2 separate regions of the Homo sapiens genome follow, and region 1 is linked to region 2. The links come from fine-mapping of genetic effects on gene expression. A gene starts in region 2. The other region holds a variant in brackets. All regions are shown on one strand. Distances are from middle to middle. Region 1 overlaps GPR139 (G protein-coupled receptor 139). Region 2 holds the start of THUMPD1 (THUMP domain 1 NAT10 acetyltransferase adaptor).

Region 1 (5,379 bases), 690 kb after region 2:
CCATAGCTTACTGTCTTATTCCTTCATGGAGCTTCTCTCTGAGTATCTATCTGGCTTCTCTGCCAGGCTAGAGCCTCCAGGAGGGCAGAAACTGGTTCTTCAGGTTTACTGACATCTGCAACCTGTGGCAAGGTGCCTGAACACATTAGGGAGTCACTATTTGCAATGGAAAGAAAGCGAAGGAAGCTGGCCTGAGTGGGCTTGATGAATAAGGCAAAATGCTCCTCACTTAGGTTGGGTTGGTGAACAACCAAAATAACATTTGAGCATCACCATGTGCCAGGTGCTCTTCTAAGCACTTTATTTGTGTTAATGTATTTAATTCCCACAAGAATCATATGAGATAGGCATTACCATCCCCACTTTACAGATAAAGAACATTGAGGCATGGAGTGTTTAAGTAACCTAGCCACAGTCACAAGACTAGGAATCAGCAAACCTGGAATTCAACCCCATGAAGTCTGGTTTCACTCTCGGAGCTCTTAATCTTTCCTCATTTCAACAAGGGAAAAGTGTTCTAAGAGTGAAACTGTCAATCACATTCAATAGGGAAATGAATTCTATTTCTGAGCATCTACTCCATGCCAAGCATGGTACAGATGATTTCGCACATTAAATTACTCAGTCTTCTTAACAGCGCTTTGGAAAGATGTCCCCATTGCACAGATGAGAAAACTGACTTAAGTGTTACGCCCAAGTCAGTAAGTGGGGAATTTGATTCAATAGCTATTATAGAAGGTAACAGAAAGGAGTGCCCAAGAAGCTACATAGACACTGGATTTAGAGAGAAAAAAGCAGAGGAAAGGGGTGTGAACAGTCATCACACATATAAGGGAACACCATGAAAATGACAGCAAACAGATGGATGTCACACAGAGAGAGCCTTGGGGAGTCCATCCATCCATCTATCCATCCGTTCATCCATCCATCCATCACTCTTTCATCCCACAAACATTGATGGAGTGCATACTCTTTGACAGCCCTGTGATAAGTCCTCAAGGTTTAGAGTAAAGAGATACAGTCCCTGCTTTCCAGGGGCTCCCAGTGAATGGGTGATAAAGATCTTGAAGAATAGCATCATAAAAATGTGTTAAATACTCTGGCCAGTGAGGTGCTTAACTCAATGCATTGAGATCAGAGAAGGCTTTAAAACTAAAGTCTTCTAGGCAAAGGATTGTGGGTGGGGAAGGTATTTCAGGCAGAAGAAATAGCCCATGCAATGCTATGGAGGTAGGAAAGTGTGTTGCACGTTCAGGCAATGGCTCCTAAAATAAAGTGGCAAGGTGCATTTGCAGGGGTTGCAGAAGGGAGCTGATGGTGCGGGAGGTACCTTGTGGGTTGTGCAAAGATTTTGGATGTTGGCTGGTAAAGCAGAGGTCTCAAACCTGCAACCCATGGACCACCCTGTGTATTGGGATGGGGTGTGTAACTGTGTTGCTTGCAAGCCTCTCCTGAAACACTGGAAGACCTGACCACAGTTGGCTGTCATTCTCTCATGGGAAACTACCAAGTGGAGCTAAATGGTGACCACCCTCCTGCAATGGGGCATGCGATATCCTGCTCACCGGAAGTGCCCACATGGCATGCCCACACATTTATATTTCCTGCCCAGGCCCTGTCATCATTTGAGTTTGCAAAATCTAACGCGGTGCCATTGAAAGGAACAGGGATTTTGAAATGATGCCTCATGCTGCCTTGGGATGATCTATTTAGCAAGTTCTCAGCACCTTGAGCCTAAGGAACAGATCTTGTACTCTGGGAGCCTGACCCAGGCTCTGGTACATGGTTGGGCATCACTAAATTTATGTTGAACTGAATTGGATTTATGTGGAAGATTCTGGCACAAACCCTCTTCTCAGGCAGCTAATGGTCCCAAAAAGATCTCTCCCACACACTGAACACCAAATTAATTTCCAATTACCCTGGATTACATCACCTGATTCATTTTCTGCAGTAAACCCTAAGTACATTCAAAACTGTTAACCAGCCTTTTGCTTCTCTGCAATGTTAAGTTAATCTATATTCATAGTTATTCATTCATTTATTCATTCAACAGGTATTTATTGAGAACCTACTGTATGCCAGGAACTATGTAAGAGCTTGGCAATATATTAATAATAATCAGCAAAGCAGGCACACTTCCTGCCCTTCCAAACTTTTACCCTGTCTAATAGTAAAGATGATAAAAAGTGTATAGCATGCCTAGCACCGGGCACTTTCCCTGTATTAATTTATTTAATCCTCATGAAAACCTGTGATAGGTGCTATATCAGCATACTTTTCATAGATGAGCAAACTGAAGGCCCAGAGAGGTTAAGTAAATTGCTCAAGGTCACACAGCTAGAAGGCTGCAGGGGCAATTTGAAACCCAGCAATCTGGCTCCAGAATTTGTACTCTGCCACCTGTCTTTCTAAGATGACGCTAGGACATGCCTTCTAAATCCTTAAAGTGGTGATCATTAAAATTGTGGTCAGCTTTCATGACACCTGCTGCCATGGAACCCTGGGTATGTAAATGAACCATAAAACATGTTCTGGAACCTTGATATAGACTAGTTCATTTTCCCCCCGATGTCACGTGTTATTGTTTTTTCTTCTTTTAAATTGGAAACACTGGATGCAAACCTAATATGAGGAAGGAGCTAGAGGATGCAAAGTCAATAGTTACTGGTTGCAGTTTATACATGGCCTTAGCTGCAGGACACGCAGGTCAGCTGTCCCTTAAAAATGATCCCTAAGGGCTGGGCACAGTGGCTCACGCCTGTAATCTCAGCACTTTGGGAGGCCAGGTCAGGCCTCCCAGGTCAGGAGTTCGAGACCAGCCTGGCCAACATAGTGAAACCCTATCTCTATTAAAAATACAAAATTTAGCCAGGCATGGTGGTGGGTGCTTGTAATCCCAGCTACTTGGGAGGCTGAGGCAGGAGAATTGCTTGAACCTGGGAGACGGAGCCTGCAGTGAGCTGAGATGGTGCCACTGCACTCCAGCCTGGGCGAAAAAGCGAGACTCCACCTCAAAAAAAACAAAAAAAAAATCCCTAAGAAGAGAAGTTTTAAGACTAGAAAGACAGCTTGAGTCACTGACTAAAGTTTGTTTTGTTTTTATTTTTGTTTTGCATGAACATAGCTCACTGCGGCCTCTAACTCCTGAGCTAAAGTGATCCTCCTGCTTCAGCCTCCCAAGTAGCTGAGAATACAGGCTTGCACCACCACACTCAGCAGATTTTTTAAC[T/C]TTTTATAGAGATATGGGGTCTCACTATGTTGCCCAGACTGGTCTCAAACTCCTGGCCTCAAGAAATTCTCCCACTTCAGCCTCCCAAAGTGCTGGGATTGTAGGTGTGAGCCACTGAGCCTGGCCATTTTTTTCTTTGTTTTAATGCTTCTGTTTCTTCACTGTGTTACTCACAGTCCCTACCATTCCCAGATCCTCGAGTGCCGTTCTCCTCAATCTCCCCCTGCATGTTTCTCTGAAGCCTTCCCTCGCCACAAACTCAGAACCCAGAACTCATTGCTGCTTCCTCTCCAAGTGCCCAAGAAAATGTCTCGGCCTCCTGGCTTACACTTACCACTTGGTCATGTAGCCTCTTTCCCTGTCTGCCTCCCTGACTAGAGGGTGAAATAGATCTGCCATCCCTCACCTGCAGCCCCAGCACAGAAAATGGCACATAATACACGCTCAGCACATGCTATGGGAATAAAAGAAGTCTCAGAGAGATGAGAAACTTACCCAAGCCACAGAGCTAGTTGGCGGCAGAGCAGAATTCTACTGAGTCAGAATGGACTGTAAGCTCCCTGTGGATGCAAACCACTTGTGTGTTTGTCTATCACTGCATCTCTGTGTCTGGAACAGTGCCTGATTCACAGTGAGCAGCTCAGTAAACATTTGTTGAATGAATAAGAGAATGCCCATCTTATTTAATTCTTCCTTTGTCCTTGTCTTCATAGGAGAATGAGGCAGGGTAATGGAAAATGATGGCTTTGTGTTGGCTGCATTTTGTATGCACAATTGATAAGCTATTTGCCCACAGCTAAAAATACCTACCCCTGGCAGCCATTGGGAGAAGCAGATGGATGATGCTTGGCACAAGATGTTTAATCAAACAGCGACAACCAAGGCAGAGCCTCAATTAGCCTCTGACACCCCAGCGAACTCCAGATGAAGAGCACAGAAGCCTCTGATTTCCTGTTGGTCCCCTCGCACCCAATAACCTTCACCCCTGTGTCCACAAAACAGCAAAAACAAATAAGTATCCCCTGGCCAAGGCAGTCGCTAGCCGGAAATCAGTAGATGGGCAGGACTGGCAGAAGCTGAGCACGTGGGGCAAAAACAATGGAGAATCAGCCAGTGGGGAGCATCATTCGCTATTGAAAAGGGGCAATGGGCAGGAGCTCAGTTGTATGCCCTGGATTTCAAGGAGGTGATTAGCTCCCCAGATCTCCTTATCCCCACTGATTCCCAGGGGCTGGGAGTGGCGAGCATTCTCAAAGGCCATATGACTGCTCTGAAATTGATCCTTCTCTCAACTTCCCTCATGCCTCATAGGTGCCAGCTGATGGACACTGTTTAAAACTAATAATAATATGTTACAAAAGAAAACAACTGGCCCATTTCTATTTAATGGTCAGTTCCCTGAGCTGATTATGGAGGTATCTGGACAAGTAAGTGCATCAAATGCACTCTAGAGTCTAACAAATTGTTTTTGAATCCTGGGTCTTGCACATACTTTCTGTCTGATCTGGGCAAATTCCTTAACCTCACTGAACCTCAGTGTTCCTGTCTTTAAAATAAGGATATTAATAGTAGCTATCTCATGATGTCGTATGAGGATAAAATTCAGTGCAAGTGGCCAGGCGCAATCTCTCACACCTGTCATCCCAGCACTTTGGGAGGCCGAGGCTGGTGGATCACCTGAGGTCAGGAGTTCGAGAGCAGCCTGGCCAACATGGTGAAACCCTGTCTCTACTAAAAATATAAAAATTAGCTGAGCGTGGTGGCAGATGCCTGTAATCCCAGCATCTCGGGAGGCTGAGGCAGGAGAATTGCTTGACCCTGGGAGGCAGAGGTTGCAGCGAGCCGCGATTGCACCACTGCTCTCCAGCCTGAGCGACAGAGCAAGACTCAGTCTAAAAAAAAAAAAAAAAAAAAAAAATAGTGCAAGTGAAACCTCTGGCAAGTGAGCCAAATACAGTCAGTGCTCAATAAAGGGAACTGTTATTGTTAAATGTACCAGCCTTGCTCAGGTGTTGGAGAGTGGGAAAGCTGGAAGAGGCATTTGATACCATTGCATACAACTTTAGTCAACTTCCTAACCCTTTCAAGCCTGAATCTTTTTTATCTGTAAGGGGATGAAAATAGCACCTACTTTACTAGTAAGGATT
Region 2 (5,379 bases):
TATTTAGAGCTGGACGAGGGCCTGTTTCAGAAGAGGAAGTAAGTGGACGCAGCCCCGGCAGCTGCCACAGGATGAGTGTGTGATTTAGATAACTAACGTCTAGACTGAGAGCTACAGGGTTGCATATTTTTCTCACTTCATTGGATATTCTCTGCACAGTCAGCAACCATGAAATACAATAAACTGTTAAAAAACTTTAGACAAATTAAATTTAACAGAATTAAATTGCACAAGGAAGGATTCTCAAATCAGGCAGGCCCCTGACCCACTAACCGGAATAGGTTTAGAGACATCCTGGTGCTGCCACATGGTCAGAGATGATTTATGGACATAAAAAGAAAAGTGAGGTGCAGGAAATGGAAGTAAGGTACAGAAACAGCCCAATAGGTTACAACTCAGTATTTGCCTTATTTAAACGTGGTTTGGCTGGGCGCAGTGGCTCATGCCTGTAATCCCAGCACTTTGGGAGGCGAAGTGGGCAGATCTCTTGAGGTCAGGAGTTCAAGATCAGCCTGGCCAACATGGTGAAACCCCATATCTACTAAAAATACAAAAATTAGTTGGCCGTGGTGGCATGCACAGGTAATCCCAGCTACTTGGGAGGCTGAGGCAGGAGAATCGCTTGAACCCAGTAAGTGGACGTTGCAGTGAGCCGAGACTGCACCAGTGCACTCCATCCTGTGCGACAGCAAGACTCCGTCTCAAAAAACATAAAAATAAAAAACATGGTTTGAACAATCAGCCACCTGTGAGTGGTTGAGCATGGCTTCTGTGCTTGGCTGAGATTTGGCTACTTGTTACAACAGCCATTACAGTCTGTTTACACATCCAATTAGGTTATAGTTCACTATGTATGGAGAAACCTGTAGGCCAGGGATGTCCAATCTTTTGGCTTCCTTGGAAGAAGAATCCTCTTGGGCCACCCATAAAATATACTAATGCTAACAATAGCAGATGAATTTTTTTTAATTGCAGAAAAACCTCAGAGTGTTTTAAGAAAGTTTATTAATTTGTGTTGGGCCGGTTGAATTTCAAAGCTGTCCTGGGCCACATGTTGACTGTGGGCCAACAGGTTGGACAAGCTTGATTTAGGCCAAACTTAAATTTAGCCTAAAGCTGCCTCCTCACATATTTTAACAAAACTGAGTTTTTGTTTTTCAAGTTTGCCTCCATATAGTACTCAAATATGCTTGGGACTTGAAATATATATATTTTAACTTGTTATCTGTATGCTAATATTTGATATCCTAAGGACAGGTGGCAGAGTGTGGGCAACTGAAACCCAGCCAGCAGAAGAGAGAGAGATTTGGGGGAAGGCCAATGCCAGTGTCATGACACTGCTCTTCACAAACAACTGAGGACTTCTAGAAATCTCTGCTGTGCAGTGTCCACCAAAGAAATTCTGAAAATTAAATGCTGTATTGAATACACAGGTAAAAGCAAACAATAAGATGATAAAATTTTTGGACATAGTGGTAGATCTGGGGTTAGAACCTAGGGTTTATTGACTGTGAATTCGGTGTCCCTTTCAAAATATCAGATTACATCTTTTAGGGCTTTGTAGGAACTCAAATCTGCTAAGAGGTTTGTACCTGAAGAGTAGTATGAGAAGCACTTGTTTTTTAAACACATTCTTCAAAAGTGGCATCTTCAATGATTTTTAAAAAGACAGTAACATGATAAGTTGCCAAGACTATGGATAAAAGGCCGCAACGAAAGCAGCATGAAACAACACCAGCCAACATCCTTGGTTTTAAGTGAAATAGAAACATAGCCTGGAAAATTGAGGCTGAAATGGAATTTACTGGAAGCCTTTTGAGTAACTGTTCTATGTGGGAAATGCGCGAGGGGAAAAAACAAGACAAAATACGGCCAGGCGCGGTGGCTCACGCCTGTAATCTCAGCACTTTGGGAGGCCGAGGCGGGTGGATCACGAGGTCAGGAGATTGAGACCATCCTGACTGACACGGTAAAACCCCGTCTCTACTAAAAATAAAAAATATTAGCCGGGCGTGGTGGCGGGCGCCTGTAGTCCCAGCTACTCGGGAGGGAGGCAGGAGAATGGGGTGAACCTGGGAGGCGGAGCTTGCAGTGAGCCCAGATCGCACCACTGCACTCCAGCCTGGGCGACAGAGCGAGACTCCATCTCAAAAAAAAAAAAAAAAAATAGACAAACATACAATACCTTTGGGGGTAAACAACCTTTATCCCACGTAAATGGCAATGCAGATATAATAAGCAAATGATATAGTAAGCAAATTGCAATGGGAAGGGGAGAAGGGAAAAAAAAAAAATATATATATATATATATATATTTACACGCACCAGACTATGTTGGATTCATCACCAGACCGGGAAGCAACAGCCTGGGCTCCAGAGTCAGCCACTTGTCCGTGCACAGAGGAGGAGGGGTCTCAAGAAGCTTCCGTGTGGCCTGGGACCCTGGCTCATTTTTTTTTTTTTTTTGAGACAGAGCCTCGCTTTGTTGCCAGGCTGGAGTGCAATGGCACGATCTCGGCTTACTGCAACCGCCGCTTCCCGAGTTCGAGTGATTCCCCTGCCTCAGCCTCCCGAGTAGTTGGGACTACAGGTGCGCGCCACCACGCCTGGCTAATTTTTTGCATTTTAGTAGAGATGTTGGTCAGGATGGTCTCCATCTCCTGACCTCGTGATCTGCCTGCCTTGGCCTCCCAAAGTGCTGGGATTACAGGCGTGAGCCACCGTGCCCGGCCGACCCTGGCTCTTTTTGTAATGCGTTGATTGGCATGAGGCCCAGTCACGAGGGCCCTTCTCGACTGGGCTCAAGGAACACATAAAGGTCAACTTGTTTCTGTGATTGTCTGTTTTTCAATAACTCAAGTACAGGTACAGAGTTATCTGTAACAGTGCTGGATGAATGAATGCCTCAAGGGGCTCATGCAACCTGTTACGGGACTTGACCATTGTGTCCACGTTCAATTGAGTTCAAATTTAATATTTAACTTTTCCTCCACAGTAGCTGGCAGAATTATAGGGAAGGCTGGAGGAACAGGTACCAAGGTTGGGTGGAAGAAGCTATATGGCTGGAGCCAGCTTCAAGGGCTTGAGGAGCCACCGACACCACTTCCAGAATGGCTGCTATGCTGCCTCTACTGGATTCAGGTTGCAGTCGGGAGGCGGGGCAGGAGGCGGGGCTTGGGCGGGTATCACTCCACCCCTTTCACGATTGCAGACCGGCCTTAGGACCTGGCGCAGCACGGAATGAGGCTTCGAGGCCGGCTAGGGGAGGCCGTCGCTCATATCCGACGTCACCAGTTCGCGCCGGCGATAGACGAGGACGCCAACAGCAGCGGAGAAACGTTTCTCTTTCCTCTCAGTTTGCGCACACCATGGCGGCCCCTGCCCAGCAGACTACTCAGCCTGGCGGCGGGAAGCGCAAAGGCAAGGCTCAGTATGTGCTGGCCAAGCGCGCTCGGCGCTGCGACGCTGGCGGGCCCCGTCAGCTAGAGCCCGGGCTACAGGGCATCCTCATCACCTGCAATATGAACGAGCGCAAGTGCGTGGAGGAGGCCTACAGCCTCCTCAACGAATACGGCGACGACATGTATGGGCCAGAAAAGGTACCGGTCCCGGGGTGGGCGGGCGGGCCGGCTGCCAGGCCTTGCGGGAGGAGGGAAGGGTGGAGGGATGGCTGCTGGTATGGGCATGCGCGCCTCGGGTCGTCGGCGTGACGGCTGTAGGGGCGTGGCCTCGCCGGCGTTTCCGTCCCTAGTCCTGAGACGCTCGCAGACTTCGGTGCTATCGGTTTTGTGCTTGAAGTGCTTGCACCTTTTCTTGCCATCAGTAACCACGGTAGCTCCCATTACTTTTATTTTTATTTTTGTGAGACAGGGTCTCGCTCTGTTGCCGAGGCTGGAGTGCAGTGGCGTGATGATAGCTCAGGGAAGCCTCGACTTCTCCTGTCTCAGCCTCCAGAGTAGCTGGGACTATGAGTGCGCGCCACCACTCTCGGCTAAGTTTTGTAAATTGTAGATAAGGGGTCTCACTGTTTGGCCCAGGGTAGTCCTAAACCCTACACTCAAGCGATCCTCCCGTCTCTGCCTCTCAAGGTGCTGAGATTACAGGCGCGAGCCACTGAGCCCGGCCTACCTCCCACTTAAGGATTGCTCATTGAGGGCCAGGCGGTGTGCTGAAGCTCTTTCAGAAACACATTTTTCATGACAGCCTCGTGAAGTTGGAGTAATAATGTGTTTACCTGAAGCAATAATATTTCTGAAATAATAGGTTTACTACTAATGCTAGTTACTGCACTTAAAATACATTTTAGAACGTAAAAACTTTTACCAATATCACCTAAAGTCTTAGTGTTTGGAAATCATATTACTGGCTTAGAATCTGGACCAATACACACACGCACACTGAGGGATTAAATGAAGAAGGGTAATACAGAGGGAATTTAAATTCACGGCTCATCCTCTACTAGCTTGGGGACTCGGACATGGGCACATTATTTGATGCTGCTGAGCTAGATAAAAAAGAGAATACTTTAAGACTGGCTAGTGAGTTGCTTATGTACATAAAATACATACTGGTATGTAATAAAGTTTCTGTAAATGTATACAATTATTATTGTGCCTGACTGGCAATTTCGTTGGGCACTAGGGGGCAGAGAGCTGGGCAACAAGCACATATCCTGTCTACTCCTGTACTTTAAGCAAATTCTTTTTTTGGAAGCGGTCTTGCTCTGTCACCCAAGGTGGAGGTTGGAGTACAGTGGCATGCTCTTGCTCACTGCAACTTCCACCTCCGGGGCTGAAGCAGTCCTCCTGCCTCAGTCCCCGAGTAGCAGGGACTGCAGGCATGTGCCACCATGCCCGACTAATTTTTTGTATTTTTTGTAGAGACGGGTTCTCAGGCCATGTTGTCCAGGCTGGTGTCAAATTCCTAGGCTCAAGGGATCCGCCCACCTCTGCCCCCTAAAGTACTGGGATTACAGGCATGAGCCACCATGCTTGGCCAAAATTATTGAACAATGTATTTCTGTGCCTTGTTCCTTAATAGAACAAGAGTAAGGGTTTTTAATTCCACAGGTATTTGGTCTAATCTCACCAAAAGGACAGTGTCGTGTGAGGCACACAGATACCTGGTCAACGTGTTAAGGTCCACCCTAAAATGATTGATCTGGTCAGCACGTTTCTCTCTGCCTCAAACTGTCAGGATGCTTTTGAAAACATTTTCAAATTTTACATTCTATAGTCTGCGGGAATTCCCTCTTCCTCCACATTTTTTTTTTTTTTTTAATTTTTTTGAGACAGAGTCTTGCTCTGTCACCCAGGCTGGAGTGCAGTGGTGCAATCTCAGCTCACTGCAATATCTGCCTTCTGGGTTCAAGCGATTCTC

What was found. PIP is the estimated chance that this variant, and not a neighbour inherited with it, causes the effect.
Region 1: its variant is the best candidate, but not a certain one, in a credible set for the expression of THUMPD1 in unexposed skin (GTEx, PIP 0.85).

The regions. Positions count from the first base shown.
Region 1 is chr16:20,044,766-20,050,144 of GRCh38, reverse strand. All of the region lies in intron 1 of GPR139 (G protein-coupled receptor 139), which reads left to right. Among named protein-coding and RNA genes, the nearest start is that of GPR139, 26 kb to the left of the region's middle. The variant T/C (reference allele first, on the strand shown) is at 3,233.
Region 2 is chr16:20,739,729-20,745,107 of GRCh38, reverse strand. It overlaps THUMPD1 (THUMP domain 1 NAT10 acetyltransferase adaptor), which reads left to right and starts at 3,290. Exons shown (of 4, transcript NM_017736.5): 1 at 3,290-3,599. The coding sequence starts at 3,369. It also overlaps a transcript of ACSM3 not described here. RefSeq lists enhancers at 3,215-3,484, 3,495-3,544, 3,845-3,984, 4,015-4,104.